Linked DNA regions of Homo sapiens: regions 2, 3 and 4 are each linked to region 1. The links come from fine-mapping of genetic effects on gene expression. A gene starts in region 1. Each other region holds a variant in brackets. All regions are shown on one strand. Distances are from middle to middle. Region 1 holds the start of MRPL45 (mitochondrial ribosomal protein L45). Region 2 has its middle 7.8 kb from the start of EPOP. Region 3 overlaps MRPL45 (mitochondrial ribosomal protein L45). Region 4 has its middle 76 kb from the start of TBC1D3K.

Region 1 (8,104 bases):
GGGCTCCATTTAGAAATTTCAATACGACAACAAGGGATTCCAGTAACCCACTTCACTGGGAAAAACAGGAAATCAACTTTTCCTTCTGCCTCATTATATTTCTTTTTCTTTTCTTTTCTTTTTTTTTTTTTTTGAGATGGAGTGTCGCTTTTTCGCCCAGGCTGGAGTGCAGTGGCCAGATCTCTGCTCACTTCAAGCTCCGCCTCCTGGGTTCATGCCATTCTCCTGCCTCAGCCTCCTGAGTAGCTGGGACTACAGGCGCCTGCCACCGCGCCCGACTAATTTTTTGTATTTTCAGTAGAGATGGGGTTTCCGTGTTAGCCAGGATGGTCTCGATCTCCTGACCTCGTGATTCACCCGCCTCGGCCTCCCAAAGTGCTGGGATTACAGGCGTGAGCCACCGCGCCCGGCCTGCCCCATCATATTTCAACTGGAATTCTTCACATCTGCTTATTGTATAAATAAATATTGGAGTGTCTACTATGTGCAAGAGTGTTCTTTGCCAAGACTGAGCCCCTAACAATCGATTCCTTCCTCTACTTGCACAATGAGTTCTCTTCTCTTGCTCCCATCATCGTGACAAGATCTTTTTATCTTGCTTTTTCTGAAATGTGAATTACTAAGATTGTAGGATTAAGAAATACCCTTTTTGGCTGGGCACGGTGGCTCATGCCTGTAATCCCAGCACTTTAGGAAGATGAGGCAGGTGGATCACCTGAGGTCAGGAGTTCGACACCAGCCTGACCAACACGGTGAAACCCCATCTTTACTAAAAATAGAAAAAATTAGCCAGGCTTGGTGGCGGGCACCTGTAATCCCAGCTACTTCGGAGGCTGAGGTAGGAGAATCACTTGAACCTGGAGGCCGACGTTGCAGTGAGCCGAGATCGTCCCACTGTACGCCAGCCTGGGCAACAAAGTGAAACTTCATCTCAAAAAAAAAAAGAAAGAAAAGAAATATCCTTTTGGTGTTACTTCTCTAACAGACAGCTCCCAATTTTCTTCTTTTTTTTTTTTTTTTTTTTTTTTGGGGGGGATTGAGTTTTGCTCTTGTTGCCCAGGCTAGAGTGCAATGGCATGATCTCGGCTCACCGCAACCTCCACCTCCCGGGTTCAAGCAATTCTCCTGCCTCAGCCTTCCGAAGAGCTGGGATTACAGGCGCCCGCTACCACGCCCAGCTAATTTTTTGTATTTTTAGTAGAGACGGGGTTTCTCCATGTTGGTCAGGCTGGTCTTGAGCTCCTGACCTCAGGTGATCTGCCTGCCTCAGCCTCCCGAAGTGCTGGGATTACACGCGTGAGCCACTGTGCCTGGCCAGCTCCCAATTTTCCATGAAGCTGATGAGGTAGGAAGATATGAATTTTCCAAAACAGTAGCTCATCAAACAACAACAAAACTAACTTATAGCTCATCTCTAAGCAATTAAATGATATTGACTCCCCTATCATTATTTCATCCAGGCTGATATGGAACAAGTTTGTATTAACTGAGAAACTGATCAGAGGGTGGGCAGAGATGATCTGGGATGTGTTGGCTACTGTGTGAGGCTAACATAAAACTCAATGGTGGAGGAAGTAATCTAAGATAAATTATATTAATGTTCTGCATTAATCAATAATCTTGGCCAGGCGCGGTGGCTCACGCCTGTAATCCCAGAACTCTGGGAGGCCGAGGCAGATGGATCACCTGAGGTCAGGAATTAGAGATCAGCCTGGCGATGTGGTGAAACCCTATCTCTACTAAAAATACAAAAATTAGCCAGGCATAGTGGCAGGCACCTGTAATCCCAGCTACTCGGGGGACTGAGGCAGGAGAATCGCTTGAACCCAGGGGGCAGAGGTCGCAGTGAACTGAGATCGAGCTATTGCACTCCAGCCTGGATGACAGAGTGAAACTGCATCTGAAAAAAAACAAAAAAACAAACAAAAAAAACACCTCTCATCCATGGAGTAAACTTTCCTCACTTTGGTTGGGAATACCAGTAAAAATAATTCATGTTTTGGCCGGGCACGGTGGCTCACCCCTGTAATCCCAGCAATTTGAGAGGCCGAGGTGGGCGGATCACCTGAGGTCAGGAGTTTGAGACCATCCCGGCCAACATGGTGAAACCCCATCTCTACTAAAAATACAAAAAATTAGCTGGGCGTGGTGGTGGGCACCTGTAATCCCAGTTACTTGGGAGGCTGAGGCAGGAGAATCACTTGAACCCGAGAGATGGAGGTTGCAGCGAGCCAAGATTGCGCTATCGCATTCCATCCTGGCTGACGAGTGAAAACTGTCTCAAGAGAAAAAAAAAATCATGTTTTATTTTCTAGGGATTAGAGTAGGTGGACAGGAGTCTGTTAAATAATCAGATATAGCTTATTTAAATGCTTAATAACATATATTCTATTTTTTTCTTTTTTCTTGTTTCCCTATGCTTCTATAGGCACTGAATAGCTCTGTTGCCCAGGCTGGAGTGCAGTGGTGGGATCTTGGCTTACTGCAACCTCTGCCTCCTGGACTTAAGCCATCCTCCCACCTCAGCCTCCCCAGTAGCTGGGGCCACCATGCCCAGCTATTTTTTTTTTTTTTTTTTTTTGAGACGGAGTCTTGCTCTGTCGCTCAGGCTGGAGTTCAGTGGCACAATCTCGGCTCACTGCAAGCTCCGCCTCCCAGGTTCACTCCATTCTCCTGTCTCAGCCTCTGGAGTAGCTGGGACTACAGGCGTCTGCCACCATGCCCGGCTAATTTTTTTTGTATTTTTAGTAGAGACGGGGTTTCACCATGTTAGCCAGGATGGTCTCAATCTCCTGACCTCGTGATTCGCCTGCCTCGGCCTCCCAAAGTGCAGGGATTACAGGTGTGAGCCACCGCACCCGGCCTAATTTTTTAATTTTTTTGTAGAGATAGGGTTTTGCCATATTGGGCAGGCTGGTCTTGAACTCCTGGACTCAAGGGATCTAACCCACTTCCGCCTCTCAAAGTGCTGGGATTACAAGTGTGAGCCACCCCACACGACCCCACATACTCTTCAACACATACATACAGCACTAATTTCATGTCACTATTAATGTGTCGTGCTATAGGTTCAATACTGTGGCTGGAACTTGTAGGGAAATACTTACCACATAAGAATGTACGATATAGCTGCGAAGTCAAGCTTTAAAAAACGCCTGTAATCCTTGCACTTTGGGAGGCCGAGGTGGGCGGATTGCCGGAGCTCAGGAGTTGGAGACCAGCCTGGGCAACACGGTGAAACCTCGTCTCTACTAAACTAGAAAAAATTAGCCGGGCATGGCAGCGTGCACCTGTAATCCCAGTTACTCTGGCGGCTGAGGCAGGAGAATCGCTTGAACCTGGGAGGCAGAGGTTGCAGTGAGCCGAGATTGTGCCACCGCACTCCAGCCTGGGTGACAGAGTGAGACTCCGTCTCCAAAAACAACAACAACACGTGATCTCCAAACCCAAAAGTAATCTTTCAGTTCTTCTGATAGTCCCCAGCACTTTGCTTCGACCTTTGTAGCAATTCTACTTCAGCCTGAAATTTCTTGTATGTACAGCCTGTAGCTCCTAACTTATTGCAAAATATTGTAGATGAGAACTCTGTAAGCTGTAATTGGCAGAATAATAACCAACGGCTAAGTGTGGAAAGTGTCTGCCTTTCAGCAACGTTTACACTACTGAATTTACCAGGGTGATCCCAACATCACGAATCCTTTAACAACTTAACATGAAGCAGCACGTAGCAGTTACCTGCATGGGTTCTGGAATTAGACTGCTTAGATTCAAATCTCGGTTCTGCCAGTTATCATCTATCTAACCTTAAGTAAATTACGTAATTGCTCTGTGACTCCTTTCCGAAATGACAAATCACAAATGTTTTTGTCAATTCACGTGTCTTCTGCTTTAGTAAACATAGTAGAAGACAGTAGTCAATCTCTTTTTTTGTTTTTTTTTGAGACAAAGTCTTTCTCTGTCACCGACGCTGGAGTGCAGTGGCGGGATCTCGGATCACTGCAGCCTCCGCCTCCTGTGTTCGAGGGATTCTCCTGCCTTAGCCTCCCAAGTAGCTCAGACTACAGCCGCCTGCCACCAAGCCCGGCGCTCTCTTGCTGGCGCATGACAACCGTGCGTTCCACCCTACGACTAATTTTTTTTTTTTTTTTTTAGACGGAGTCTAGCTCTGGCTGGAGTCAGTGGCGCGATCTCGGCTCACTGCAACCTCTGCCTCCTGGGTTCAAGCGATTCTCCTGCCTCAGCCTTACAAGCAGCTGGGACTACAGGCGTGTGCCACCACGCCCGGCTAATTTTTGTATTTTTAGTAGAGACGGGGTTTCGTCATTTTGGCCAGGCTGGTCTCGAACTCCTGACTTCAGGTGATCCACCGGTCTCGGCCTCCCAAAGTGCTGGGATTACAGGCGTGAGCCACCGCGCCCGGCCTCCTTTTCCTTTTTTAACTAATGGAATAAACGGCAATGTGCCAAGCATACAGCAATGCCCATTCCCCGGCCTTCAGAAAGCCTCGGGCGCAGGCGCAGCTCGCGTTCAAGCGCTCTCTCGCTGGCGGGGGACAACAGTTCGTTCCACCCTACGCCCAACGTTGTCTCCCTGCGCACGCGCGGCCGTACTCCGCCCTCCTTACTCCACCCTCCCCCACTCCCGCGAGCACGTGCGCGTCCTCGCTGCTCACATTTCGGCGGAGGGCGCGCTCCCTGGAAAATTCCACTCCTGTGCTAGCTCCACCCTATGCGGCTTTTCTCCTACCCGACGCTCTTCACTCTCAGCTCCCTTCCCGGCGGCCTTTGCGGGAACAAGATGGCAGCCCCCATACCTCAAGGGTTCTCTTGTTTATCGAGGTTTTTGGGCTGGTGGTCTCGGCAGGTGGGTAGGGACGGGGCCGATAGGACCCTAGGGGCTACAGGAGAGGACAGAGTCGAGGGAAATACTCTCTGTGCAATTGTCCTTGGTGAGCTGGGACAATACGAGTCATACCTAGGCCGGGGAAGAGGCTTAGGTGGACAGGACCTAGCTGCGGAGCTCAGTGGTCGAATGGGGATAGCCTAGACAGGGCCATGAGAGCGAGTGAATTAACGGATATTAAGTTTTTCCGGATTGGTTTGGGTCTGTCTGGCGAGGAGATATTAAAGGAGAGACAAGTAATGGGTTGGAAGGTGGACTCCCTAATCTTCGATTCTTATAAGTGAACTACGTTGAAGAGTAGCCGAAAATGAGGGCGTCCCATATTGTCACTGCCCCGTCTGAGCAAACCTCATGATCAGAGAGAAAAGATCTCCTGATCTTTCGAGGGTTTATTGGTCAGTTGGGTGCTAAAACGACAGAATAAAGTTTACAGCGAGACTCCCGATAGGATGAGCAAAATATCACGAGTACATATGGAGCAGATGCCTACAAGAGGACTTTGCTTATGCTTTAAGCATAGCATTCAGGGCCCGGCGCGGTGGTTCACACTTGTAATCCCAGCACTTTGAAAGTCCGAGGCAGAAGGATGGCTTGAGCCCAGGAGTTCGAAATGAGCCTGGGCAACATATAAGACCTGGTCTTTACAAAAAAATTTTAAAATTAGCCAGATGCGATGGCGCACTCCTTAGTCCCAGCTACTTGGGAGGCTGCGGTGGGAGGATAGCTAGAGCCCAGGAGGTCAAGGCTGCAGTGAACCGTGATCGTGCCATCGCACTCTAGGCTAGCGATCTGCCTCAAAAAATAATAAAGAATAGTATTCTGCCCATTTCAGTATTGAGTTGGTGTTTCCCCATCACCATCAGTTTTTGAAACTTGCTTTGATCAACTCAGTATCCGTAGGAGTTAGCATAGTCCTGTACTGTGGGAAGTTCTAAAGGAAAGCCTTTAGTAAATGTGATGTTAATAAAGGTTGCTAACTGTCTTCTATTTAGAGACACCCATAAGTATTAAGGTCCTAATGCATTTTTTCCCTGTGATATTGTTTTATAATTGTTCCTGAAGCATTCTTTGGATATTCCCTCTCTATAGTGCTTTGCTTAGAGTTTGTAAAAGATAGTAGATCTTTTTTCTAGGTTCCTAACCTTTCCTTTACCTTCCAGCCAGTTCTGGTGACTCAGTCCGCAGCTATAGTTCCAGTAAGAACTAAAAAACGTTTCACACCTCCTATTTATCAACCTAAATTTAAAACAGAAAAGGAGTTTATGCAACATGCCCGGAAAGCAGGATTGGTTATTCCTCCAGAAAAATCGGACCGTTCCATACATCTGGCCTGTACAGGTGAGGTATTTCTGGGACCCTGACCTGGGATCCTTCTGTCAGAGATCTTCTGGAACTTGGGATGACTTGGACTATGATTGATAATATTTAATTAAGCACGAAGTCAGTTCAACCTCAATAATGATTAACCTTATATACACTATATATCATGAAGTTGTTCTTTGAACTTACTTTCACACTGTCCCTAGAAGGCAAGAGTGAAATTTCTCCATTTTGTGGAAGTAGAAACTGAGGCTCTGAGAGAAGACTTAAATCTTTCTGGCTTTTTTTGTTTTGTTTTGTTTTGTTTTTTGAGACAGAGTCTCGTTCTGTCGCCCAGTGGCACAATCTGGGCTCACTGCAACCTCTGCCCCCCTGGGTTCAAGCGATTCTCCTACCTCAGCCTTCCAAGTAGCTGGGATTACAGGCACCTGCCACCATGCCCGGCTAATTTTTGTATTTTTAGTAGAGATGGGGTTTCACCATCTTGGCCAGGCTGGTCTTGAATTCCTGACTTTGTGATCCGCCCGCCTCGGCCTCCCAAAGTACTGGGATTACAGGTGTGAGCCACTGTGCCCGGCCTTGTTTTGTTTTTTTCTAGTGTAACATAGTTCTCTCTACATGGAAGTCTGTTTCATTAGTCTACTTCATATCCACAATCCTTCCCAATTTTACATTACTTCAATTTTATGAGTTTTTCTCAATCTTTCAACACTTTCTTAATTTTTTTCTTCCTTTATTACAGCTGGTATATTTGATGCCTATGTTCCTCCTGAGGGTGATGCACGCATATCATCTCTTTCAAAGGAGGGACTGATAGAGAGAACTGAACGAATGAAGAAGACTATGGCATCACAAGTGTCGTAGGTGTCTGAGACAATTGGGTATTGGTATTAGAATAACAATTTTTTGTTGCTACTTTATCCCAAAGAGACCTTTTTGGGTTAATTGGGTTGGGTGTCATTCTCTTAATAACATGATGGTATTTTCTCCTTTGTACTAGAGTCTGTATTTAATGCAGAATAATGTGGGCTTCCTGATTCTCAGCATCCCTGCCTTTATTGGTAATTTTTGTCATATCAGTTAGGGAGTTGACTTTGGAGTGTATAGGATCCTTTTTTAATCATATATTTAATTTTTTTTTTTTTGAGATGGAGTTTCGCTCTTGTTGCCCAGACTAGAATGCAATGGCACGATCTTGGCTCACCGCAACCTCCGCCTCCTGGATTCAAATGATCCTCCTGCCTCAGCCTCCTGAGTAGCTGGGATTACAGGCATGTGCCACCATGCCCGGCTAATTTTGTATTTTTAGTAGAGATGTGGTTTCTCCATGTTGGTCTGTTGGTCAGGCTGGTCTTGAACTCCTGACCTCAGGAGGCCCGCCTTGGCCTCCCAAAGTGCTGGGATTACAGGTGAGAGCCACCACGCCCAGCCCTTTATTTATTTATTTATTTATTTATTTTGAGACGGAGTTTCACTCTTAACTCACTGCAACCTCTGCCTCCCGGGTTCAAGAGATTCTCCTGCCTCAGCCTCCCGAGTAGCTGGACTACAGACGCATGCCACCACGCCCAGCTAATTTTTGTATTTTTAGTAAAGACGGGGTTTCACCATGTTGGCCAAGATGGTCTCGATCTCTTGACCTCGTGATCCACCCACCTCAGCCTCCTGAAGTGCTGGGATTACAGGCGTGAGCCACTGCGCCCAGCCGACCTGGCTAATTTTTAAAAGAAATTTTTGTAGAGACGGGTTATCACTATGTTGCCCAGGCTGGTCTCGAACTCCTGGGCTCAAGCAGTCCTCCCACCTCAGCCTCCCAAAATTCTGGGATTACAGGTGTGACCCGTCACACCCAGCCAGTCTAGCTCTGACTGTATCTATCTTT
Region 2 (8,104 bases), 390 kb after region 1:
ACAATCTCAGCTTACTGCAACCTCCGCCTCCTGGGCTCAAGCGATACGCCTGCCTCAGCCTCCCGAGTACCTGGGATTACAGGCACCCGCCACCACGCCTGGCAAATTTTGTATTTTTAGTAGAGACGGGGTTTCTCCGTGTTGGTCAGGCTGGTCTTGAACTCCCGACCTCAGGTGATCCGCCTGCCTCAGCCTCCCAAAGTGCTGGGATTACAGGGATGAGCCACTGCGCCCGGCCTGTTCCTTTTTATTGCTGAGTAGTAGTCTGTTGTAGGGATATGCCACATTTTGTTTATCCAATCACATTTGGGTGTTTTTCACTTTTTGGCTATTATCTATAATGCTGTTATGAACATTTGCTATACACGTCTTTTGTGAATATATGTTTTTATTTCTCCTAAGTAGACATTTAAGGGTGGAATTGCTGGGTCATATGCTACATTTATGTTTAACCTTTTTTTTCTTTTTCTTTTTTTTTTGAGACAGGGTCTCACAGTCTCATTCAGGCTGGAGTGCAGTGGCACAGTCAGGGCTCACTGCAGCCTTGACCTCCTGGGCTCACGAGATCCTCTGCCTCAGCCTCCAGTGTGGCTGGGACCACAAGCCTGAGCCACCATGCCCAGCGAATTTCTTTTTAAATTTTTTTTGTAAGACAGGGTCTCGCTATATTCCCCAGGCTGGTCTCAAACTCCTCGGCTCAAGGGATTCTCCTGCCTCAGCCTCACAAAGGGCTGGGATTACAGGCATGAGCTACCATGCCCAGCTGTGTTTAATTCTTTTAAAAACTGCCAAGGTCGGGCATGGTAGCTCACACCTGTATTCCCAGCACTTTGGGAGGCCAAGGCAGGCTGATGGCTTGAGGCCAGGAGTTTGAGACCAGCCTGGGCAACATGGTGAAACTCCATCTCTACAAAATACAAAAATTAGCCGGGAGTGGTGGCATGTGCCTGTAGTCTCAGCTACTCAGAAGGCTGAGGGTGAGGAATTACTTGAGTCCAGCAGGTCAAGGCTGCAGTGAGCCACATTCATGCCATTCTGTGCCTGGGCGGCAGAGTGAGACCCTGTCTCAAAACAAAACAAAACTAAACTAAAAACTGCAAGGCTGTTTTCCAAACGGGCTATTCCATTTTACATTCCTATTAATATCCATGATATAGGCTGGGCACGGTGGCTCACGCCTGTAATCCCAGCACTTTGGGAGGCTGAGGTGGGCGGATCACCTGAGGTCAGGAGTTCGAGACTAGCCTGGCCATCATGGCGAAACCCCGTCTCTACTAAAAAAATTTAAAACTAGGCCGGGCGCAGTGGCTAACACCTGTAATCTCAGCACTTTGGAAGGCCAAGGCGAGCAGATCACAAGGTCAAAAGATCAAGACCATTTGGCCAACATGGTGAAACCCCATCTCTACTAAAAATACAAAAATTAGCTGTGCGTGGTGGCGGGTGCCTGCAATCCCAGCTACTAGGGAGGCTGAGGTAGGAGAATCGCTTGAACCCAGGAGGTGGAGGTTGCAGTAAGCCGAGATTGCGCCACATCACCCCAGTCTGGTGACAGAGCGAGACTCTGTCTGTAAATAAATAAATAAATAAATAAATAAATAAGCCAGGTGTGGTGGTGCACGCCTGTAATCCCAGCTGCCCAGATTCTCGGGAGGCTGAGACAAGAATCGCTTGAACCCAGGAGGCGGAGGTTGTGGTGAGCCAAGATTGCAGGACTGTACTCCAGCCTGAGTGACAGAACAAGACTCTGTCTCAAAAAATAAATAAATAAATAATCCATGGTATAAATGAGGACATTGAGGGAGATAAGTGACTTGCCCAAGTTACACTGCTAGCAAGTGGTAGAGCCAGAACCCAAACCCAGGTAGTTGAGTCCTAAGTTAGCTCTGGTAACCACAAGGCTACCCCACAACAATGAATCCAAGAGGGAAGCCATTTCTCCACCCTGCCACACCCAGCCACCATCATTTAACCTTTCTTGGTCCCAGAATTCCCTAAGTCAGCAGGGCTGCATCACCCCCTAGCATAAACCCACATGTTCCTCTACCTCCTCTGGGAATTTGCACCCAGGGTTAACAGCTTAAGTTCTGGGCTCAGATGGGTCAGTTCACATTCCAGACCCATCATTTTACTAGCTTTGTGACTTTGGGGCAATTACTTAACCTCAGGAAGCTTTAGTTTCCTTATTTGTAAAACAAGACTAGCATCTTTCCTCATGCAATTAAAAAGGTATTATATGATGGAAAATTTCAAACCTACACAAAAGTAAATAAACATAATTAACCTCTGAGTACCCAATATCCAGCTTCGACACTCACCAACTCATGGTCAGTTTTGTTTCATTCTTACCCACCCACTTCCTCACTTAAAAAAAAAAAAAATCAAATTGGCCAGTATGATGGCTCACACCTGTAATGCCAGCATTTTGGGAGGCCGAGGCTGGCAGATTGTTAGAGCCAGGAGTTTGAGACTAGCCTGGGCACCATGGCGAAACCCCATCTCTACCAAAACAAACAAAAACAACAACATGTAAATTAGCTAGTCCCAGCTACTCAGGTGACTGAGGTGGAAGGATCCCTTCAGCCTGGGAGGTTCAGGCTGCAGGGACCTGCAATCACCACTGCACTCCAGCCCAGGTGACAGAGCGAGACCCTGTCTCAAAAAACAACAATAACAACACAATTTTATTTAGGTATGATTTATGTAATAAAATGCACATTTTAAGTGTACAGTTCAAATGGTTTTGCCAAAGGAATATGCCCATGTTACCACCACAATTAAGATGTATTATAGCCGGGCGCGGTGGCTCACGCTTGTAATCCCAGCACTTTGGGAGGCCGAGGCGGGTGGATCATGAGGTCAGGAGATCGAGGCCACGGTGAAATCCCGTCTCTACTAAAAATACAAAAAATTAGCCGGGTGTGGTGGTGGGCACCTGTAGTCCCAGCTGCTCGGAGAGGCTGAGGCAGGAGAATGGCGTGAACCCGAGAGGCGGAGCTTGCAGTGAGCCGCGATTGCGCCACTGCACTCCAGCCTGGGCAACAGAGCGAGACTCCGTCTCAATTAAAAAAAAAAAAAAAGATATATTATAGAACAATGGCCAGGCACGGTGGCTCATGCCTGTAATCAATCCCAGCACTTTGGGAGGCCGAAGCAGGTGGATCACTTGAGGTCAGGAGTTCAAGACCAGCCTGGCCAACACGGTGAAACCCCATGTCTACTAAAAATACAAAAAAATTAGCTGGATGTGGTGGCTCGTGCCTGTAATTCCAGCTACTTGGGAGGCTGAGGTGGGAGAATAACTTGAACCCAGTAGGCAGAGATTGTAATGAGCTGAGATTGTGCCACTGCACTCCAGCCTGGGTGACAGAACAAGACTCCATCTAAAAAAAAAAAAAGAAAGAAAGAAAAATATAAGATATAGAACAAACCCCAAACCCCATATTATTTTGTTTTGCTTTGTTTGTTTTTTAGAGACAGGTCTTGCTCTGTTGCCCAGACTGGAGTGCAGTGATGCGACCTCGGCTCACTGCAACCTCTGGGGTTCAAGTGATTTTCATACCTTAGCCACCTGAGTAGCTGAGACTACAAACGTGTGCCATCACGCACGGCTAATTTTTGTATTTTTTTGTAGATATAGGGTTTCACTATGTTGCCCAGGCTGGTCTCAAACTCCTGGGCTCAAACAATCCTCCTGCCTTGGCCTCCCAAACTGTTGGGATTACAGGTGCGAGCCACTGTGCCCAACCTAGAACAAACCCCATGTTATTTTTAGGCAAATCCAAGACATCACATAATTTCATTCCTAAATATTTCAATACATATTTCTATAAGGACCCTTTAAAAGTAAACATAACCCCAACATTATTATCAAACCTAAAAAAAATTAACAATTGGCCGGGCACAGTGGCTTATGCCTGTAATCCCAGCACTTTGGGAGGCCAAGGCGGGTGGATCACCCAAGGTCAGGAGTTCGAGACTAGCCTGATCAATATGGTGAAACCCTGTCTCTATTAAAAATACAAAAAATAATCAGCCGGGCATGGTGGCATGCACCTGTAGTCCCAGAAACTCAGGAGACTGAGACGGAAGAATTGCTTGAACCTGGGAGGCACAGGTTGCAATGAGCTGAGGTCACACCACTGCACTCCAGCCTGGGTGACAGAGTGGGACTCCATGTCAAAAAAAAAAAAAAAAAGAATTAACAATCACACTTTAACTTCATCAAATAGCCAGTCAGTGTTCAAATTTCTAATTATCTTATAATATTTTTTCTTTACAATTTTTAGTTTATTTGAATTAGGAGCCAAAGAAGGATTTCAAGTGGTTAATATGTCTCTCTTTTTATCTATAAATTCCCCCTTTATCTCTCTCTGTCTCTCTTTTTTTTTTTCCTCTTTGCAATTTAGTCATTGGAGATACTACGATTGTCTTCTAGACTTCCCATAGTCTGGAATTTACTGGCTGCATTCCCACCGTGAGATTTAATCAAACAATATTTATGG[A/C]ACAATATTTATTAAGGACCTGCTATGTATAGTATTGTCAAATTTAGCACAGAGCTGGGTGCACTGGCTCACACCTGTAATCTCAGCACTTTGGAAGGCGAAGGCGGGTGATCACTTGAGGCCAGGAGTTTGAGTCCAGCCTGGCCTACATGATGAAACCCCATCTCTACTAAAAATACAAAAATTAGCCGGGTGTGGTGGCGAGTGCCTGTAATCCCAGCTTACAAAAGAGGAGGCTCTTGTAAGGGAGGCTGAGACAAGAGAATCACTTAAACCCTCGAGGCGGAAGTTGCAGAGAGCTGAGATAGTGCCACTGCACTCCAGCCTGGGAAATAGAGCAAAACTCCGTCTCAAAAAAAAAAAAAAAAAAAAAATTAGCACAAAATATACAGAACATATTTATTTATACTAAAAAACTTACTTATTGTTTATCTATAATTCAGATTTGACAGTGTTTTATCTGGCAACTCTATGTGCCAGGTGCTATTCTAGCACTGGGGACACAGCAGCAAGACAGACAACCCCCACCTCAAGGAGTTTGTATTCTAGTAGATTCGGGAAGCCAGCTAATGCACAGGCAAATAATATTCCTTCTGAAGATATTGTGAGGATTAAAGAAGAAACCTAGCCTAGGCGAGGTGGCTCATGCCTGTAATCCCAGCACTTTGAGAGACAAAGGAAAGAGGATCACTTGAGTCCAACAAGAGTTCAAGACCAGCCTGAGCAGCAACATAGCAAGACCCCATCTCTGCAAAAAGTGTAAAAATTAGCTGGGCATGGTGGTGCATGCCTGTGCCCCCAGCTACTTGGGAGGCTGGGACAGGAAGATCCCTTAATCCCAAAAGTTTGAGGATGCAGTGAGCTTTGGTCACACCACTGCACTCTAGCCTGGGTGACAGAGCAAGACCCTGTCTCAAAAAAAAAAAATAATTATTATCCATAGGTAAGAAAAAACATGGCCGGGCGCCGTGGATCACTCCTGTAATCTCAGCACTTTGGGAAGCCAAGGTGAGCAGATCATTTGAGGTCAGGAGTTCAAGACCAGCCTGGCCAACATGGTGAAACCCATCTCTACTAAAAATACAAAAATTAGCCGGGCTCGGTGGCGGGCACCTGTAATCCCAGCTACTCGGGAGGCTGAGGCAGGAGAATTGCTTGAACCCAGGAGGCGGAGGTTACAGTGAGCCGTGATCACGCCATTGCACTCCAGCATGGGTGACAGAGCAAGACTCCGTCTCGGGAAAAAAATAAAAAATAAAAAATGAGAAACTCACGTATTAATGCTTGGTGCATAGAAGTTCATGATCAATGTAAGTGCCTTTGGCAGTAGCTTAGGCTGCCTTTTCCCTTTCCTCCTTTCTTTCCTTGTCCCATCCCTCTCCGCATTCACTTAGGAACTATTCCAGACTTGCCTCCTCCTGCAGTACTTCCTCCATATGACCATGGTTAATTCATTCATTTATTTACCTCACAGTTACTGAGCACCCACCATGTAGCAAGCCCCAGGCCAGGCCCTGGGGACTCAGAGATGCTGGAGACGCAGTCTGGTGGGGGAGATGGACATTACAAGCTGATCTAAGAAGTAGCAATAGAGGGATGATCATGGTCCTGGAATCTTAGAGGAGGATGACCCTAGAGGAAGAGGAAGGAGGTCTTTTCAGAGAACGTAATCTTCCTCCTATGTCTACAGGCTGAACAGGAGTATACAAAGGAGGCAGGGCTGGGCATGGTGGCTCATGCCTGTAATCCCAGCACTTTGGGAGGCCAAGGCAGATGGATCACCTGAGGTCACCTCAGATCACCTGAGACCAGCCTGTCAACATGGTGAAACACCATCTTTACTAAAAATACAAAAATTAGCCATGTGTGGTGGTGCATGCCTGTAGTCCCAGCTATGCAGGAGGCTGAGGCAGGAGAATCACTTTGAACCTGGGAGGTGGGAGTTGCCGTGAGCCGAGATTGCACCACTGCAGTCCAGCCTGGGCGACAGAATGAGAGACTCCATCTCAACAAAAAGAAAAAGAAAAAAAAACAAAGGAGGCAGGAGAGAAGAGAGAAGAATTCCACCTGCAGAGGAATATGAGCAAGGAACCAAGGCAAGCAAGTGCCTGCCCCATGTGCTGCCAACTTCCAGCCATCAGCGTACCACCCCTCTGTTAAGTAGCAGGGTGCCCTGGCCTTGGCCTTTCTCATCCACCTTCCTAGAGTCATCTCATCTCCCTTGCACAGCCAATCACTCTCGCCATCAGGAGGTCTCTCCCATTAAAAAGCTAAATCTTCCTTGACCCCAGAGGCTACAGCCCTATCCCTTTCTTCCCTTCACAGCCAAGCTCCCCCGAGAGCTGTCTACGCACGTAGCCTTCCTTTTCTCACTTCCCACTTGCTCCCCAACCCGCTTCCATCTGCTTCCACCCTCGCCCGCCACCGGAATAGCTCTTGCTGAAGTCTCGGTGGCCTCCATCTCATCGAAACTGGCAGGCACTTGTCAGCCTCCCTGACCTCTCCGGGCAGCCCGCTTGGCTGGCCACTTCCTCCTCCGAGACATTTCCAGTCCCCTTCTTTCTGGACACCAAGCTCCCTTGCTGTCCTGCCTCTGGGGCTGCTTCCTCTTGCTTTTCAGTGCAGGCTCACTCTCCCCTTTTCAGCCCAAAATGTCGGGGCTCCTCAAGGCTTTGTCCAGAACTCTCTTCTCTCTCCAGACACTCTTCCCTGCTCACTTTGCAGTCAGCATTGGAGCCCCGGGGTTCAGCCTGGCCCTTTCCTCTCAGGTCTGGCCCAGACACCACACTGCCCACTCAGTCCACCTCGGACATTTCAAAAGCCCCTCAAACTCAGCCATCCCAAACCATCAGCACCCACTCCACCCCCTCTTCCCAGGAAACCTATCCTGAGGTGTGGCTCCCCCATCTATTCACTTCCACAGCCAGAAACCCAGTCCTCATCCCGACACCTCCAGCCCTCCAAGTCAATGCCTCAGCAAGACTCATCATACCCCACAGTCATCTTTCCAAAGCCACAAATCTGACTGTTACGCCCGTATTCAAAACCTTTTTTCTTTTCTTTTTGAGACAGGGTCTCACTCTGTCACCCAGGCTGGAGTGCAGTGGCACAGTCACAGCTCACTGTAGCCTCAACTTCCTGGGCTCAACTGATCCTCCCACCTCAGCCTCCCAAGTAGCTGGGACTACAGGTATGTGCCACCACACCCAGCTAATTTTTAAAATTTTTTGGGGGGCCAGGCCCGGTGGCTCACACCTGTAATCCCAACACTCTGGGAGGCTGAGGCGGGCGGATCACCTGAAGTTGGGAGTTCGAGACCAGCCTGACCAACATGGAGAAACCCCATCTCTACTAAAAATACAAAATTAGCCAGGTGTGGTGGCAGGTCCCTGTAATCCCAGCTACTCAGGAGGCTGAGGCAGGAGAATCTCTTGAACCTGGGAGGCGGAGTTGCCAGGAGCCAAGATCGTGCCATTGCACTCCAGCCTGGGCAACAAGGGCGAAACTCTGTCTCAAAAAAAAAAAGTTTTTGTAGAGTCGGGGTCTCACCATGTTGCCCAGTCTGGTCTTGGGCCAGCTGGTGAGCAAATGTGGTCCCA
Region 3 (8,104 bases), 24 kb after region 1:
TGTATTTGTCTGTTTTACATTTTATCCAACATTTCCTTTTTTTTTGAGACGGAGTCTTGCTCTGTTGCCAGGCTGGAGTGCAGTGGCGCGATCTTGGCTCACTGCAACCTCCACCTCCCAGGTTCAAGCGATTCTCCTGCCTCAGCCTCCTGAATAGCTGAGACTCCAGGTGTGTGCCACTGTACCTGGCTAATTTTTGTATTTTTAGTAGGGACAGGGTTTCACCATGTTGGCCAGGATGGTCTTGATCTCCTGACCTCGTGATCTGCCCACCTTGGCCTCCCAAAGTGCTGGGATTACAGGCATGAGCCACCGCACCCGGCCCATAAATCCACCATTTCTAAATGTTTATAGTAGAAGTAGTATTACATTATTGCAAAATAGTAAGTGAACTCATGGAAAATGGAGTTTATTTCCACTGAAGACTTCTATGCCAGGATAGTGGGGAGGAAGAGTTCACTCAGAGGTGCCAGTGATGGTCATCATGGTAGTTGTCACCACAGCTCAGTCTGTTCCTACAGTAGAGGAAATGACTTGGAATCTTTCCTATTAGGAATAGAGATGAAAGGGAAGCAGATAGACATGTTAGAACTAATCCCTTACCCATTCTGGGCTTAGAGAGCAAGATTTTTCAAAGGGGACAAAGAGTTAAACTGCTCATAGTAAACTGGGGAAAAGTCGTGTGTATCTGAAAGAAGCTAATCTATGGCCTTAGGTTTGAGACTCATCAGCTAGGAACCCTCCTAAAATCTTGTATCTATAGGAGCTAGGGTTTGTTGTCTGTTTTGTGTTTTTTTTGTTTTGTTTTGTTTTTTTTTGAGACGGAATCTCGCTCTGTCACTCAGGCTAGAGTGCAGTGGCGTGATCTCAGCTCACCGCAACCTCCGCCTCCCGGGTTCATGCCATTCTCCTGCCTTAGCCTCCTGAGTAGCTGGGACTACAGGCGCCTGCTACTACTCTCGGCTAATTTTTTTTGTATTTTTAGTAGAGATGGGGTTTCACCTTGTTAGCCATGACGGTCTCGATCTCCTGACCTCATGATCCACCCGCCTCGGCCTCCCAAAATGCTGGGATTACAGGCATGAGCCACCATGCCCGGCTGTTTTGTGTTTTTTTAACCATTACTATATAGAGTCAGCATGACTCGGCCACTCTGGCAGCAACAAGATAAAGGAGAGAAAATAGACCAGGAAAGACATGATTATCTTTGACTAGGTTCAAAGATGAGCGTGTAAGATATAAGGCTAAAAACATGGTGAAACCCCATCTCTACTAAAAATACAAAAATTAGGTGGGCGTCATGACGTGCACTTGTAGTCCCAGCTACTCAGGAGGCTGAGGCAGGAGAACCGCTTGAACCTGGGAGGTGGAGGTTGCAGTGAGCCGAGATCGCGCCACTGCACTCCAGCCTGGCGACAGAGCGAGACTCTGTCTCAAAAAAAAAAAAAAAAAAAAAAAGATATAAGGCCAAGCCAGATGGTACTGATGCTGGCTCAGAGGCAAGAGGAGATAAAACAAGCTTTTGATTGTTACTTGTGTTGAACTTTGTTGCTCATACCAGCTTAGAGCAAAAATCAGGTCCTATGTCCCAGTGAGGGTACCCATCTTAAGGATATATGGTAATTTTAGAGAAATTGCCTCCTACTCCTTAGATTTAAACATAATTTTTTTTAAATTTATTTTTTATTTGTAATATAATTTTATTCTGCTACTAGATCTTAGGGTTTTCTGGTAAATCACATTATTGTTCGTGTTTGTGCCCCTAGAATTTAGCATATTTTATACCTGGCTTATACTAGATGTGCCGAAAACATTTGTAAAAATGAATTGTTTTCCATTTTCAGGACCATTTTCAGTCTTCATACAGGGTATTATAAGAGCAATAGTCAATGATATTTATTGCTTTCTTTTCTAGCTCAGACCATGACCGGCTTCATACCTTGGTAACTGAACACTGTTTTCCAGTAAGTTCTCATCCTCCTTAGAACTGTGGGGTGACTGAGTGGGCAGATTCTAGATGGCGTCTCTGGTTTTTCTTTTCTTTTCTTTTCTTTTCTTTTTTTTTTTTTTTTTGAGACAGAGTTTCACTCTTGTTGCCCAGGCTGGAGTGCAATGGTGCGATCTTGGCTCACCGCAACCTCCACCTCCCAGGTTCAAGCGATTCTCCTGCCTCATCCTCCCAAGTAGCTGGGATTACAGGCATGCGCCACCATGCCCAGCTAATTTTTTATTTATTTATTTATTTATTTATTTATTTATTTATTTATTTATTTATTTATTTTGAGATGGAGTCTCGCTCTGTCGCCCAGGATGGAGTGCAGTGGCGCTATCTCGGCTCACTGCAAGCTCCGCCTCCCGGGTTCACGCCATTCTCCTGCCTCAGCCTCTTGAGTAGCTGGGACTACAGGCACCCGCCAGCACACCCGGCTAATTTTTTGTATTTTTAGTAGAGACGGGGTTTCACTGTGTTAGCCAGGATGGTCTCGATCTTCTGACCTCGTGATCCGGCCACCTCGGCTTCCCAAAGTGCTGGGATTACAGGTGTGAGCTACCGCACCTGGCCTAATTTTGTATTTTTAGTAGAGACGGGGTTTCTCCCGTTGGTCAGGCTGGTCTCCAACTCCCGACCTCAGGTGATCCGCCCGCCTCGGCCTCCCAAAGTGCTGGGATTACAGGCATGAACCCCACTGCGCCCTGCCTGGTTTTTCTTAAGAAGGATCAGTTTTGAGAGTGTAGGAAGTTTAAGGCACAGGCTGAAGGTTCATTGCTTGTAGCTGAATGACAATGTCTTGACACAGACTCTGGTAAGGGCCCTGGCAAATGAAAGAAGTCCCTCAACAAGCAGTAATGACACTGCAGGAGCATAGGTCCTGAGGCTTGGATATGGGCCATACTAGGCCACATCTCCACACGCCTGCACTATCATGAGGGATTTAACAAGAGTTCATGAGGCTTATATTGAGTGGTAACAGGAGTGTGAAGCACTTGGAGGGATCCCCAAGGATAAGAACTTTGTGGTTCAGTTAGAGATCCAAGAATAAGAACTTGGGGCCGGGTGCGGTGGCTCACGCCTGTAACCCCAGCGCTTTGGGAGGCCGAGGCGGGCGGATCACGAGGTCAGGAGATCAAGACCATCCTGGCTAACATGGTGAAACCCCGTCTCTACTGAAAATACAGAAAAATTAGCCGGGCGTGGTGGCGGGCGCCAGTAGTCCCAGCTACTCGGGAAGCTGAGGCAAGAGAATGGCGTGAACCTGGGAGGCGGAGCTTGCAGTGAGCCGAGACCGCGCCACTGTGCTCTAGCCTGGGCAACAGAGCAAGATTGCCGTCTCAAAAATAAAAATAAATAAAAAAAGAACTTGGGTTTCTATCAGTAGAACTTCAGTTTCTATCAGTCTTCCCCAGTCCTAGCAGTTTAGCCCTTATAGCCCTGTAAAATTCCCACTTTTCATTGTTAATATGTGAGTGGGGAAAAAAAATATATATGCAGTCAACACAAGTACATGCAATAATTGCCACATTATGAAAGTGTATGGGAGGGATGTTGGTGTATTGGGCATGCTGGCAGTTTGGAATGTGGTTTTTGTTGATTTAAAGAAGGGTCCTCAAAGAGGAAGGTGGGTCTGAAGTTGTGATATAGATGAAGAGAGAGTTGTCAGGTAAGCTTGACCAATAGCTTAATCAAAACTTGAGAAGGTGCAAGAGAAAATAGGCACAAGAGAGCATGTGGTGGGAAACGTGCTGCCTGTTGGCTGTAGTCTTGCAGGAAGTGAGAGCAGTGTGGCAGCACCAGCTTCCTTAAAGGGAGGGAAAAATGCAGTTGAACTTGTTCTCCTTTGCCCTTAGGACATGACTTGGGACATCAAATATAAGACCGTCCGCTGGAGCTTTGTGGAATCTTTAGAGCCCTCTCATGTTGTTCAAGTTCGCTGTTCAAGTATGATGAACCAGGGCAACGTGTACGGCCAGATCACCGTACGCATGCACACCCGGCAGGTAGAGGCACTCGTCTGCCTTCCTCCCAGCTTTTTTTCACTCTGAGCTTGGGCACCTCCCTCTGGAGTGCTGGGTATGGTTGCCCAGGACTGTAGACAGTAATAAAAGGTACACTGTGATCTGTCTTCCTTGCTGTGCCGCTGTCCCCTTCCCACTGTTACATGTTGGCTCTACTAAGATGTGTGAGGATATTCTCTCCCACTCTTCCTGATTTTTTTTTTTCCCCCAAGACAGGGTCTCATTCT[G/C]TCACCCAGGCTGGAGTGCAGTGATGTGATTGTGGCTCACTGCAGCCTCAACCTCCTGGGCTCAAGCAATCCTCCCACCTCAGCCTCCAAGTAGCTGGGACTACAGGGGCACGCAACCATGCCTGGCTAATTTTAGTATTTTTTGTAGAGACCAGTCTTGTCATTTTGCCCAAGCTGGTCTCAGACTCCTGAGCTCAAGTGATCCACCCACCTCAGCCTCCCAAAGTGCTGGGACTATAGGCATGAGCCATTGTGCCCCACTCCTTCTTGGTCTTGACTTCCCCGTCTCTCTGCCCCCTGTCAAAGAACTTGTAAGAATAAAGTGTCAGTAGTTGATCAGATAGTCCTAGATTCAGAATTCCGAGATAACTTTTTTTCTACCCATTAAGATTTTTTCTGGCTGGGCACAGTAACTCATGCCTGTAATCCCAGCACTTTGGGAGGCCACGGCAGGCAGATCACAAGGTCAGGAGTTCAAGACCAGCCTGGCCAACATGGCAAAACACTGTGTACACTACAAATAGAAAAATTGGCCGGGCATCATGGTGTGTGCCCGTAGTCCCACCTACTCAGGAGGCTGAGGCAGGAGAATCGCTTGAACCTGGAAGGCGGAGGTTGCAGTGAGACGATACCGTACCACTGCACTCCAGCCTGGGCAACAGCAAGACTCCGTCTCCAAAAAAAAAAAATTTAAAAAGATTTTTCTTATGGTGGTTTCAAAAATGGTTGTGTGGCAGGCTGGGTGCAGTGGCTCACGCCTGTAATCCCAGCACTTTGAGAGGCCGAAGCGGGTGGATCACCTGAGGTCAGGAGTTGGACAGCTGGGTCAACATGGTGACACCCCATCTCTACTAAAAAAGACAAAAAAAATCATCCAGGAGTGGTGGCACGTGCCTGTAATCCCAGCTACTTGGGAGGCTGAGGCAGGAGAATTGCTTGAACCCAGGAGGTAGAGGTTGCAGTGAGCTGAGATCATGCCACTGCACTCCAGCCAGGGCAACAGAGTGAGACTCTGTCTCAAAAAAAAAAAAAAGGTTGTATGGCAATAAAACAAACAACTCACACTCACACACCAAAAAAACTAAGAGGCCAGATTTGCTTTTATCCTTGCAGACTCTGGCCATCTATGACCGGTTTGGCCGGTTGATGTATGGACAGGAAGATGTACCCAAGGATGTCCTGGAGTATGTTGTATTCGAAAAGCAGTTGACAAACCCCTATGGAAGCTGGAGAATGCATACCAAGATCGTTCCCCCATGGGCACCCCCTAAGCAGCCCATCCTTAAGGTAAGGTGGCTTGCATGGTTTAAGAGAGCTGAGGCACTACTCGTGGTCTCCTAAGCCACTCTGTCGGGCTCCACCTAGTGGCGAGAGGGGGTGATGCACCACCCAGGAAGGGAAGGCCGGGTGGGTGGGTGGGTGGGAGCAAGGGATGAAGCTCTTCTGGGTCAGCCATGGGCTTGGTTGGTGGGTAACCTGGCGTCCTACTCTTTCAGACGGTGATGATCCCTGGCCCTCAGCTGAAACCAGAAGAAGAATATGAAGAGGCACAAGGAGAGGCCCAGAAGCCTCAGCTAGCCTGATGACAAAAATGACTTCTAGGGTGAAGCCTGGGTGATGAGGCTGCTGGAAGCTTTGAAGTCTCCCATTCCCCTCATGCTATAAAAAGAACTACCTTTGTTCTCTCCCATCCTGCTCAGGTCTTTTCAGCAGTCTCATCATCAGCAACCATGACTGATGACTGGGCCCTAGCAGGTGGCAGGTATAACATGGCCATGGACACTCTTCTTTTTTAAATTTTATGTCTAGCTTCTGAGTCTAGATGAAAGACAGTATGTTTCAGAGAACATTGGATATCAGTTTTTCCCACAGCAGGGACTGTGAGAGACAACCAGCAGCATCCTCTTTGTAATCACAGGGCAGGGATCAGAGTTTGAAATGAAATGTTGTCAGGGTGTTGGAAAAATTTTGGTGAGTTCTGCACATTTCCCCTGGTTCAGGCTGGGCATGGACCAGCCTTCAGATGGCAGAAGTGGAAGATGAGCCTACTTGTGAGCGATGTGACTTTAAGGAAATGAAGACTGGGGAAGAATAATTAGTGTTTATAAGACATTTAAGAGGCCCTTTTTCATATACTGACTCACTGATGAATCAGCATTTGCATTTTATGGAAAAATATAAATCCAAAGAAATAATTTATCCCTTAGCCTTTGATTGTGTTCTTAATTATTAGCTGTATCAGGAAGTGTTGGGGGAGGCAGGGGCCATGGAGAGGTTGTTACATTTGGAAAATTTATCTGCAGTACTTGGTTCCCTGATTTCTAGCACCATTTGGAGATGGGGACTGTTCTTTCCAGCCCAGTATTGAAGGTGAGTGTACAAAAGTATGAACCTGTGCAGAGGAAAATAGGCCAGCCCCTCCTTGTTCCTTAGCTCCAGATGGGCTGTTAAAAGGGTGTGGGACCTCACATGCCCATGTGTCCTAGGCCATCTGAGTGTGACAAGAGAAATCACTTTGTTTTTGTTTTATTTTGTTTTTTAGAGATGGAGTCTTGCTCTGTCAGGCCCAGGCTGGAGTGCAGTGGCACGATCTCGGCTCACTGCAAGCTCCACCTCCTGGATTCAAGCTATTCTCCTGCCTCAGCTTCCCATGTAGCTGGGACTACAGGCATGTGCCACCATGCCTGGCTGATTTTTGAATTTTTTTTTTAGTAGAGATGGGGTTTCACTATGTGTTGGCCAGGCTGGTCTCGAACTCCTGTCCTCAGGTGATCTGCCTGCCTCATCCTCCCAAAGTGCTGGGATTACAGGTGTGAGTCACCATGCCTGGCCTGTTAAGTGTTAACTATGGAAACAAAGGTATGTATATTTAGGGAAGAGACAGCCCTGGTGTCTCTCATCAACCACTCTCATCATGCTGCTTAGTCCCAACCTTTTTGGCTTAAAGTGTACATCACTTTAATTACTGCCCAAGTGAGGTTTGGTCACATCCTATTTGCCTGAGCCCTGGATTAAGGCAAAATGAGAAGGGACGTGCTTTTGAGCAGGACCCACTGCCAGGGAGTATGGAGGAAGGGGAAATAATCCTTGCAGGGTAAGGAAGCAAAGAAATGAAAAAAAAAAAAAAAGCACACTTAGTGGGTAAATGATACATTGATTCCTTTGAATATGTAAAAATAGTGCTTCAAATAAGCTGTTTCATCCCACTCCCCTGGATATCTCAGGGTTCTCTAGATAATCCTAAATAGGAGCTAAGCAGTAGCTGCCACCAGAGAGCCAGAGGATGAGTGCAATTTCCATTTCCCCTTGGGATTAAATCCAGCTGAGCAAATGGCCTCCAGATGTGAGGGGCTGGCTAGAAGGACCAGGCAGAGACCATCTGCAGTGTCAGCACTGACCTGGGCACTAGCAGAGCATTAGCCAGATAACCCAAAGTCCCAAGACTGCAGTGCACCTTGAGCTTTGGAGCAGGCATTGTTCTTTCCTTATCTATCTTCTGTTACTGTTTAAAAATGTTAAAAAAAGATAATCATGAATAAGCTAGAGCCAACTGCAATGTCAAGAAAAAGCATTCTTTATTTCCGCCCCGCCCCCCCCACCCCATGGTTTATTTCACAAGAGTGTGTTTGGCGGCAACTTTGCTGTTTCCAGCTAGACCAGACCCAATGGGATTGTTTTGGGGTGCACAGCAAAATCCACTTTAGCTCAGAAGCCGTAAGGCTAACTAGCCAGAGCCCAGAACAACAACACACTTCAATTACTGCTCCAAAAGCCCAGAATAAGGGCCCTAGGTAAGAGAATGAGGACATCTGGTCCCCAAAGGAGAGTAGGTTACTCCATTCCTCTGTTCCCTTTTGGAAATG
Region 4 (8,104 bases), 450 kb before region 1:
AGGCCTGCAGGGGCACAGTTGGGACAAGAACTCCGAACTCCAGGGCCCTCTACAGCTCAGGCTGTGCAAATGGGGCTGGTCCCGAAAGACGGTCCGGGCTGATGTGGGGACTGTCAGGCTGTGAGACGGGGCTCACTGGCCAGCCAGCCCAGAGGCAGCGTAGGCGCTCTGGCAGGAGACCCCCCCCAGGAAGTTTCGAAACCTTCAGCAGGATTTCAGAACCGTTCTAGACCCCATGCAGATTGTTTCTCTGTTAAAGAAGGCGCTTTAAGAAGCTGCCGAAGAGGCTCTGCCTTTGACCGTCAACAGGCATCTTTCCTCTAGTCCATCAGCCCACAAAGACAGGAAATCTGATGGGGGGAAAAACAAATAAAGTCATGCCAAAGTCGGGTGTCAGTAACCAGGGGGGCCGCCTGAGGCGTCGCATCCAACCCCCGCCCAGGTTTCCGCCCCGGGCCAGCAGTAGCCAGTCCCCGAGGGCCCATCTTCCAGCCCTGAAGCGGTAAACGCCTCACCTCTAGTGGCGAGTGCGAGGAACCGCACCCTAGCCCGCCTGACTGTCCAGCCCCGGGTGGTGCCCATCCTGCCTGTTGTTCCCTCTCAAACCAAATAAACCTCCCGACGTATGGACTCTGGCTGTCGTAGATGCAGACTCTCCTGCAATGCTTAACACCGTTTTGCTACCACGTGACGGCTGCAGACACTGTCCTCAAACTGCAGCCCCACAACGCAATTTTTGTACTTTCATCTGACATACCCGAAGGTGTCCTTTTTAAGTCTTGTTAATATTCATAATGACGTATAATCCAAAGTAAATGGAAATGTCATATTGTGATTGCAATGGAAACGGCATATTGCGACTGCATTGCCTTGGCGAGACTGTCGTCCTAACAGATTTTGAGGGGGCGGGGATGGTGGCTCACGCCTGTAATCTCAGCACTTTGGGAAGCCAAGTTGGGAGGTTCACTTGAAACCAGGAGTTCGAGCCCAGCCTGGCCAACATGGAGAAACCCGTCTGTACAAAAAAAACAGAAAACAAACAAAAAAAAACACAAAACCAATTAGCCGGGTGTGGTGGCACGCACCTGTAGTCCCAGCTGCATTAGAACTGAAGATGGCTCCCCATCTCATACACGGTGAAAGCCAGTCTTTATCAAGTTCTACATGTAGCTGGTGCAGTGTTTCACACCTGTAATCCCAGCACTCAGCACTTTGGGAGGCTGTGGTGGGTTTCACTTGAGCCTGGGAGATAGAGGCTGCAGTGAACCGAGATCACTGCATTCCAGCCTGGGTGACAGAGTGAGACCCTGTCTTAACAAAAGAGACTTGGAGGGGCTGGAGGGGAAGGTGGAAAGGCAGAGGAAAAGGCAACTGGAACTTAGGGTATGGTCTTGTTACTCTTCACCAGGAACCATTTGAGGTAGGCCCCCAAGTTACAGATGGGGAAACTGAGGCCCAGAGAGGTTAAAATACTTGTGCAGAATCACACAGCTGGCTGATGACAGAAGCACGACGCAAACTGAGGCCTCCCAAGACTTTCTGCACCAGGACCAGCCAGCCATGCTGTTACCTACTCATTCAACAAACAGCTGTGGAGTATTGACTCTAACGTCAGTCCCTGCCTGGGCCCCTGAGAGACAGTCATCAGGGAGATCATCTATGAAGACACAATAATGGTATGTTAGAAGGTGACCAGTAGCAAAAACTATGAGCATAAAGGAACTGGGTGGGCAGGCAAGGTTATGCTTAATAGGCAGGTCGGGCGGGCCTCAAGGTAAGTGTTGAGCTAAGACTTGGAGGGGCGGAAGGGAGCAATGGGGACACCTGGGGAAAAGGTTCTGAAGGCAGAGCCATGCTTGGCATGACTGAGGAAAAGCAAAGTGGCCAATGTGGCCAGAGCAGGATGGGGCAAGGGAAGAACAATGGATGGGGGCAGAGGATCGGACCCAAGTCATGTAGAAACTTTTTTTTTTTTTTGAGACAGGTTCTCATTGTATCTCCCAGGCTGGAGTGCAGTGGTGTGATCATGGCTCACTGCGGCCTTGACCTCCTGCTTTAGCCTCCTGAGTAGATGAGACTAGGCATGTGTCATCATGCCTGGCTATTCTTTTAATTTTTATTTCGCAGAGATGGGGTTTTGCTATGTTACCCAGGCTGGCCTTGAACTCCTGGGCTCGTGCAATCCCACCACAGCCTCCTAAAGTGCTGAGTGCTGGGATTACAGGCGTGAACCACTGCACCAGCTACATGTAGAACTTTATAAAGACTGTTGCTTTCACTATGCGTGAGATGGGAAGCCGTCTTGAGTTCTAAAAGACGCCCAGTAGAAGACAAACCTGTCATCTGGGGCAGGTCAGCAGGCCCAGGTTGAAGGTCCCTCTGTTGGGGGCCTGCCAGAGGGTCTGGCCTTCAAGGCCCAAATGGCATCCAGTATCCAGGGTGGCGGCAGCTCGGTCCCCACCAGATCCCTCTGCAGCATGACTCCGCTGAAGGTTCTGGCTGCCGACTCCCTTAGGAAGCCCCTGTGTGCTGGCCCAACTCTCCAGGCCTCCAGCTCATTCTCTGAACCACCTGACACCCCTTCCCATGCATTCCTTTTCTGCTTATGTTAACCAGAGTGGGATACTGTTGTTTGTGACAAACAGCCCCGCTTGGTACTCTGACGTGATCTATCGTCCAGGTCTCAACTCAAGTGCCCCTGTGAGGCCTGCCCTGCCAACCCCAGGCACTTCCACATCTCCCTGCTTTCTGTTCTTCAGGGCGTTCATCACCAAAAGCATCTTGTGTAGTTATTTCTTCCTTTCTCTCACCACTAACCTTCATGAGAGTAGGGGCCATACCCACCATTACCCCCAGTAACCCCAGGGCCTACACCAAGGCTGAGGGAACAGGAGCCTGCTAATGAGTATTTGTTGAACAAATGGGTAAAAGCTGCTGATGTGGACGTTTTATGAAAGGAGTCGAAGCCATGTGTCTAGAGCGTCAGTTCTGATGATGTTGGGTCCAAGCCCAGATGTGCGTGTGCAAGAGCCTCGGTTCAGCTCCAGAAGACTCCTGGGGTACAGATGAGAAAGGACCCCAGGGACCACTGGCTTATCCTGAACAGAAAAAGGGAGAGAGGAGGCCAGGCGCAGTGGCTCACGCCTATAATCCCAGCACTTTAAGAGGCCAAGACAGGAGAATAATTTGAGCCCAGGAGTTCAAGAAGAGCCTGGGCAACATATCGAGGTTGCATCTCTACAAAAAATTAAAAAAATAGAAATTAGCAAAGCCTGGTAGCACATGCCTGTGGTCCCAGCTACTCTGAAGGCTGAGGCGGGAGGATCACTTGAGCCTGGGAATTCAAGGCTGCAACGAGCTATGATCGCACCACTGCACTCCAGCCTGGGAGATAGAATGAGACGCCGTCTCAAAAACAGAAAAAAGAAACAGCCTTATTGAGGAATAACTGATATGCACAGAACTGCACGTGGTTAATGTGTACAATTTG[G/T]TAAGTCTGGACATTTGCAAACACCCATGATACTGTCACTACCCTGAGGGAATAGACATAGCCAACACCTCCCCAAGTTTCCTTGTGTCTCTTTGGTTTTGGTTTTGTTTTGGGTTTTCCCGTGTGTGGTAACAACACAACAAGAGACCTACCCACTTAACAGATTTTGAAATGTACAGCATTGTTATTCATAGGCCCTGTGTTGTACAGCAGATCTCTAGAACGTATTCCTCTAGCATAACTGAAACTTTACACCCATGGAAAAACTCCCCGTTTTGCCCACCCTCCAGCCCCTGCTAACCACTATTGTATACACTGCTTCTGTGAGTTTCACTGTTGTAGATACCTCATAAAAATGGAACCATGCGGCCGGGCGCGGTGGCTCACGCCTGTAATCCTAGCACTTTGTGATTGGGAGGCCGAGGTGGGCAGATCACGAGGTCAGGAGATCAAGACCATCTTGGCTAACACGATGAAACCCCATCTCTACTAAAAATACAAAAAATTAGCCGGACGTGGTGGCGGGCACCTGAAGTCCCAGCTACTCAAGAGGCTGAGGCAGGAGAATGGCGTGAACCGGGGAGGCGGAGCTTGCAGTGAGCCAAGATCGCGCCACTGCACTCCAGCCTGGGCGACAGAGCGAGACTCCGTCTCAAAAAAAGAAAAAAAGGAACCATGCAGTATTTGTCCTTCTGTGCCTGGCTTATTGCACTTGGCATAATGTCCTCCAGGTCCATCCATGTAGCTGCAAAAGGCAAGATTCCCTTCTTTTTTTGGGGTTGAATGTTATTGTCTTGTATGTCTCTACCACCATTTCTTTACCCATTAATCTGTAACTGACGCTTGAGTTGTCACAACACACTTTCTAGGCTGATCCATCAGTACATGGGTGATGCAAAATGGTAGCCTCCGGTCACAATAGCTGACATCTTTGATTCCAGCACTTTGGGAGACTGAAGCAGGTGGATCAGTTGAGCCCAGGAGTTCACGATCAGCCTGGGCAATACGGCAAAACCGCGTCTCTACGAAAAATACAAAAAACTAGCCGGGTATGGTGGCATCCACCTTTGGTACCAGCTACTCAGGAGGCTGAGGTAGGAGGACCGCTTGAGTCTGGGGGACAGAGGCTGCAGTGAGCCGATAGCGCACCACTGTACTCCAGCCTGGGCAACGGAGTGAGATCCTGTCTCAAAAATTACACTACAATACACTACACTACACTACACTACACTACACTACACTACAATACTAAAATAAAATAAAATAAAATAAAATAAAATAAAATAAATAAAATAAAATAATAAAATAAAATAAAATAAAATCGGTGGCCTCAACCCCAAGTGTGAGTGGCTTTTCAGTTTGGCTCTCCAGGGCTGCTCAGGAGCATTTCCTGTATCTCTTAATTTAGCTTCTCAGGAGAGAAATGACAGCACAAGTTATGACTCATCTCCTTAAGTCAAGTGTCAGTGATGTGGTGACATCACATGGTAAAACCATGGCTATGGGCAAGGCACACAAAGCCAGACGTGTCTTTCCCAGGAAGTCCCTGACCCAGTGGGAAAGGAAGAAGGGAGAGGTGGCAGCCAATGGAAAGAAGGGGCAGGAGCCAAGCAGGGCCACAGGACCCGAAGCAGAAATGATTCAGAAAGCAAAGACTAATAAACAGCCAATAGCAAGACACTTAAAAAAAAAAAAAGAGAGAAATGACCTACATGACCAAGAAAGGGTGAATAAATTTCACTATGGCCATCTGAAGGCTAGAAAGTTATGCAGCCATTGCTGTTTAATGATGAATAATGGTGTGGTATCTTGCAAATGTGTAGGGAACACAGAAGGATGAAAATTGAGTTTAGACTGAGTTCTTTTTCTTTTCTTTGAGACAAGGTCTTGCTCTGTTGCCCAGGCTGGAGTGCAGTGATGCAATCATAGCTTATTTCAAGCTTGAATTCCTTGGATTCAGGCGATCCTCCTGCCTCGGCGCCCCACCCAGAGTAGCTGGGACCACAAGTGTGCACCACCATGCCTGGCTGAGTTTTATTTTACTTTTTGTAAAGATGGGATCTCACTATGTTGCCCAAGCTGGTCTCAAATTCCTGGATTCAAACCATTCTCCCTCCACCATGAGCCACCGCCCTGGTGTGATCAGTGATGTGGAGCTTCTTTTCATGTGTGCTTGTCTTCTTTGGGGAAATGTCTAAGCCTTTTGCCCAGTTTTGAATTGGCTTCCTTGTTTTTGTAATTGTTGAGTTGTAGGAGTTTTTTTAATATGTTCTAGATATTAATCCCTCATTATACATACAATTTGCAAATATCTTCTCTCATTCTGTCAGTTGTCTTTTCACACTTTTTTTGGTCTTTTCTTTTGAGATAGGGTCTCACTCTGTCACCCATGTTGGAGTGCGGTGGTGTAATCATGGCTCACTGCAGCCTCGACCTCTTGGGCTCAAGTGGTCCTCCCACCTCAGCCTCCCAAGTAGCTGGGACTACAGGCACATGCCACCATGCCCAGCTAATTTTTTATTTTTTATTTTTTTTTATTTATAGAGATGGGGGTCTCCCTGTGTTGCCCAGGCTGGTCTCAAAACTCCTGGGAACAACTGATCTTCCCACCTTGGCATTCCAAAATGCTGGGATTTACAGGCATGAGCCACCACACCTGGCCTCTTGTCACTCTCTTCATAGTGTTTTTTGATGAAAGTTCTTCAACTGATGAAGATCAATTTATCTATTTTCTTGTGTTGCCTGTGCTTTGGGTGTTATATCCAAGAAAACATTGCTGAATCCCATGTTTTCAAGGGTTTCCCCTATGTTTTCTTCTAAGAGTTTCATGATTTTAGCTCCTATGTTTTTGATCCATTTTGAGTTAAATTTATATATGGTGTATGGTAAGAGTCCTACTTCATTCTTTTACATATACTCAGTTTTCTCAGCACTGTTTATTGAAAAGATTGTTTTTCCCCCCATTAAATGGTCTTGGCACATCTCTCTTTCCTTTCTTTCTTTTCTTTTCTCTGTCTATTTCCTCCCTCCCTCCCTTCCTTCCTTCTCTCTTTCCTTCTCTCTTTCTCTGTCTTTCTATCTCTCTCTCTCTCTCTCTCGTCTCACTTTGTCACCCGGGCTGAAGTACAGTGGAGTGATCTTGGCTCACTGCAACCTCAACTCTCTCTCTTTCTTTCTCAAGAGTCTCACTCTGTCACCCAGGCTGGAGTGCAGTGGAATAATCTCGGCTCACTGCAACTTGAACCTTCCAGCTTCAAGTGATTCTCGTGCCTCAGCTTCTCGAGTATCTAGGATTACAGGCATGCGCCGCCACGCCTGGCTAATTTTTGTATTTTTGGTAAAGACAAGGTTTTGCCATATTGGCCAGGGTGGTCTCAAACTCCTGACCACAAGTGATCCTCCTGCCTCAGCCTCCCAAAGTATTAGGATTACTGGTGTGAGCCACTGTGCCCAGCACATCTTGGCACCCTTTTCAAAACTCAACTGACCACTGACGTGAGGGTTTGTTTCTGGGCCCTCTATTTCACCCCATTGATCTAGATATCTGTCCTTATGCTAGTATCACAGTTTTTGGTTTTTCTTTTCCTTTTTTTTTTTTTTTGAAACAGAGTCTCACTCTGTCACCCAGGCTGGAATGCAGCGGCGTGATCTTGGCTCACTACAACCTCTGCCTCCTGGGTTCAAGTGACTCTCCTGCCTCAGCCTCCCGAGTAGCTGGAATTACAGGTGCACGCCACCATGCCCAGCTATTTTGTATTTGTAATAGAGATGGAGTTTCACCATGTTGGCCAGGCTGGTCTCGAACTCCTGACCTCAAGAGATGCACCCACCTGGGCCTCCCAAAGTGCTGGGATTACAGGTGTGAGCCACTGCACCCAGCCTGTTTTGTTTTTTTGAGACAGGAGTCTCACTGTTGCCCAGGTAGAGTGCAGTGGCATGATCTCAGCTCACTGAAAGCTCTGCCTCCCGGGTTCACGCCATTCTCCTGCCTCAGCCTCCTGACTAGCTGGGACTACAGGTGCCCACCACCACGCCTGGCAAATTTTTTTGTATTTTTAGTAGAAACGAGGTTTCACTGTGTTAGCCAGGATGGTCTCGATCTCCTGACCTTGTGATCCACCTGCCTTGGCCTCCCAAAGTGCTGGGATTACAGGCGTGAGCCACTACGCCCGGCCAAGTTCTCCAACTCTTCTTCTTTTTCACAATTGTTTTGATTATTCAGGGAGGGTGCCTTGAAATTCCCTATGAGGTTTAGAACGAGTTTTCTATTTCAGAAAGAAAATCAAACATGCCATTGGAATATTCAGAACGATTACATTGAATCTGTAGATTGCTTTGGATAGTCTTGACACATCATAATAATATTAAGTCTTCCTTCATAAACATAGGATGTCTTTCATTTATTTATGTCTTCTTTAATTACTTTCAGCAAGGTTTTATCATTTTCAGTGTGTGAGTCTTTCACCTTCTTGGATAAATTTATTGTAAAGTGCCTTATTCTTTTTGATGCTATTACAATGATTTTCTTTTCTCTGGACTGTTTATTGCTATCGTATATAAATGCAACTGATTTTTGCGCTTTGCTGAATTGGTTTATTTGCTCTAACAATTTTT

What was found.
Region 2: its variant is fine-mapped to the expression of MRPL45 in transverse colon (GTEx, PIP 0.95).
Region 3: its variant is fine-mapped to the expression of MRPL45 in left ventricle (GTEx, PIP 0.97).
Region 4: its variant is fine-mapped to the expression of MRPL45 in unexposed skin (GTEx, PIP above 0.99).

The regions. Positions count from the first base shown.
Region 1 is chr17:38,292,387-38,300,490 of GRCh38, forward strand. MRPL45 (mitochondrial ribosomal protein L45) reads left to right here and starts at 4,782. Exons shown (of 8, transcript NM_032351.6): 1 at 4,782-4,863; 2 at 6,063-6,240; 3 at 6,965-7,082. The coding sequence starts at 4,798. LOC105371760 (a long non-coding RNA gene) reads right to left here and starts at 3,219. Exons shown (of 3, transcript XR_934732.2): 1 at 3,108-3,219. RefSeq lists enhancers at 4,118-4,666, 4,667-5,217.
Region 2 is chr17:38,678,740-38,686,843 of GRCh38, forward strand. No RefSeq gene overlaps it. Among named protein-coding and RNA genes, the nearest start is that of EPOP, 7.8 kb to the left of the region's middle. The variant A/C (reference allele first, on the strand shown) is at 4,506.
Region 3 is chr17:38,316,772-38,324,875 of GRCh38, forward strand. MRPL45 (mitochondrial ribosomal protein L45) reads left to right here. Exons shown (of 8, transcript NM_032351.6): 5 at 1,916-1,964; 6 at 3,847-3,996; 7 at 5,355-5,528; 8 at 5,738-6,440. The coding sequence ends at 5,824. It overlaps GPR179 (G protein-coupled receptor 179), which reads right to left. Exons shown (of 11, transcript NM_001004334.4): 11 at 7,800-8,104. Among named protein-coding and RNA genes, the nearest start is that of GPR179, 23 kb to the right of the region's middle. RefSeq lists an enhancer at 3,602-4,539. The variant G/C (reference allele first, on the strand shown) is at 4,242.
Region 4 is chr17:37,844,365-37,852,468 of GRCh38, forward strand. It overlaps the pseudogene YWHAEP7. Among named protein-coding and RNA genes, the nearest start is that of TBC1D3K, 76 kb to the right of the region's middle. RefSeq lists an enhancer at 1-328. The variant G/T (reference allele first, on the strand shown) is at 3,491.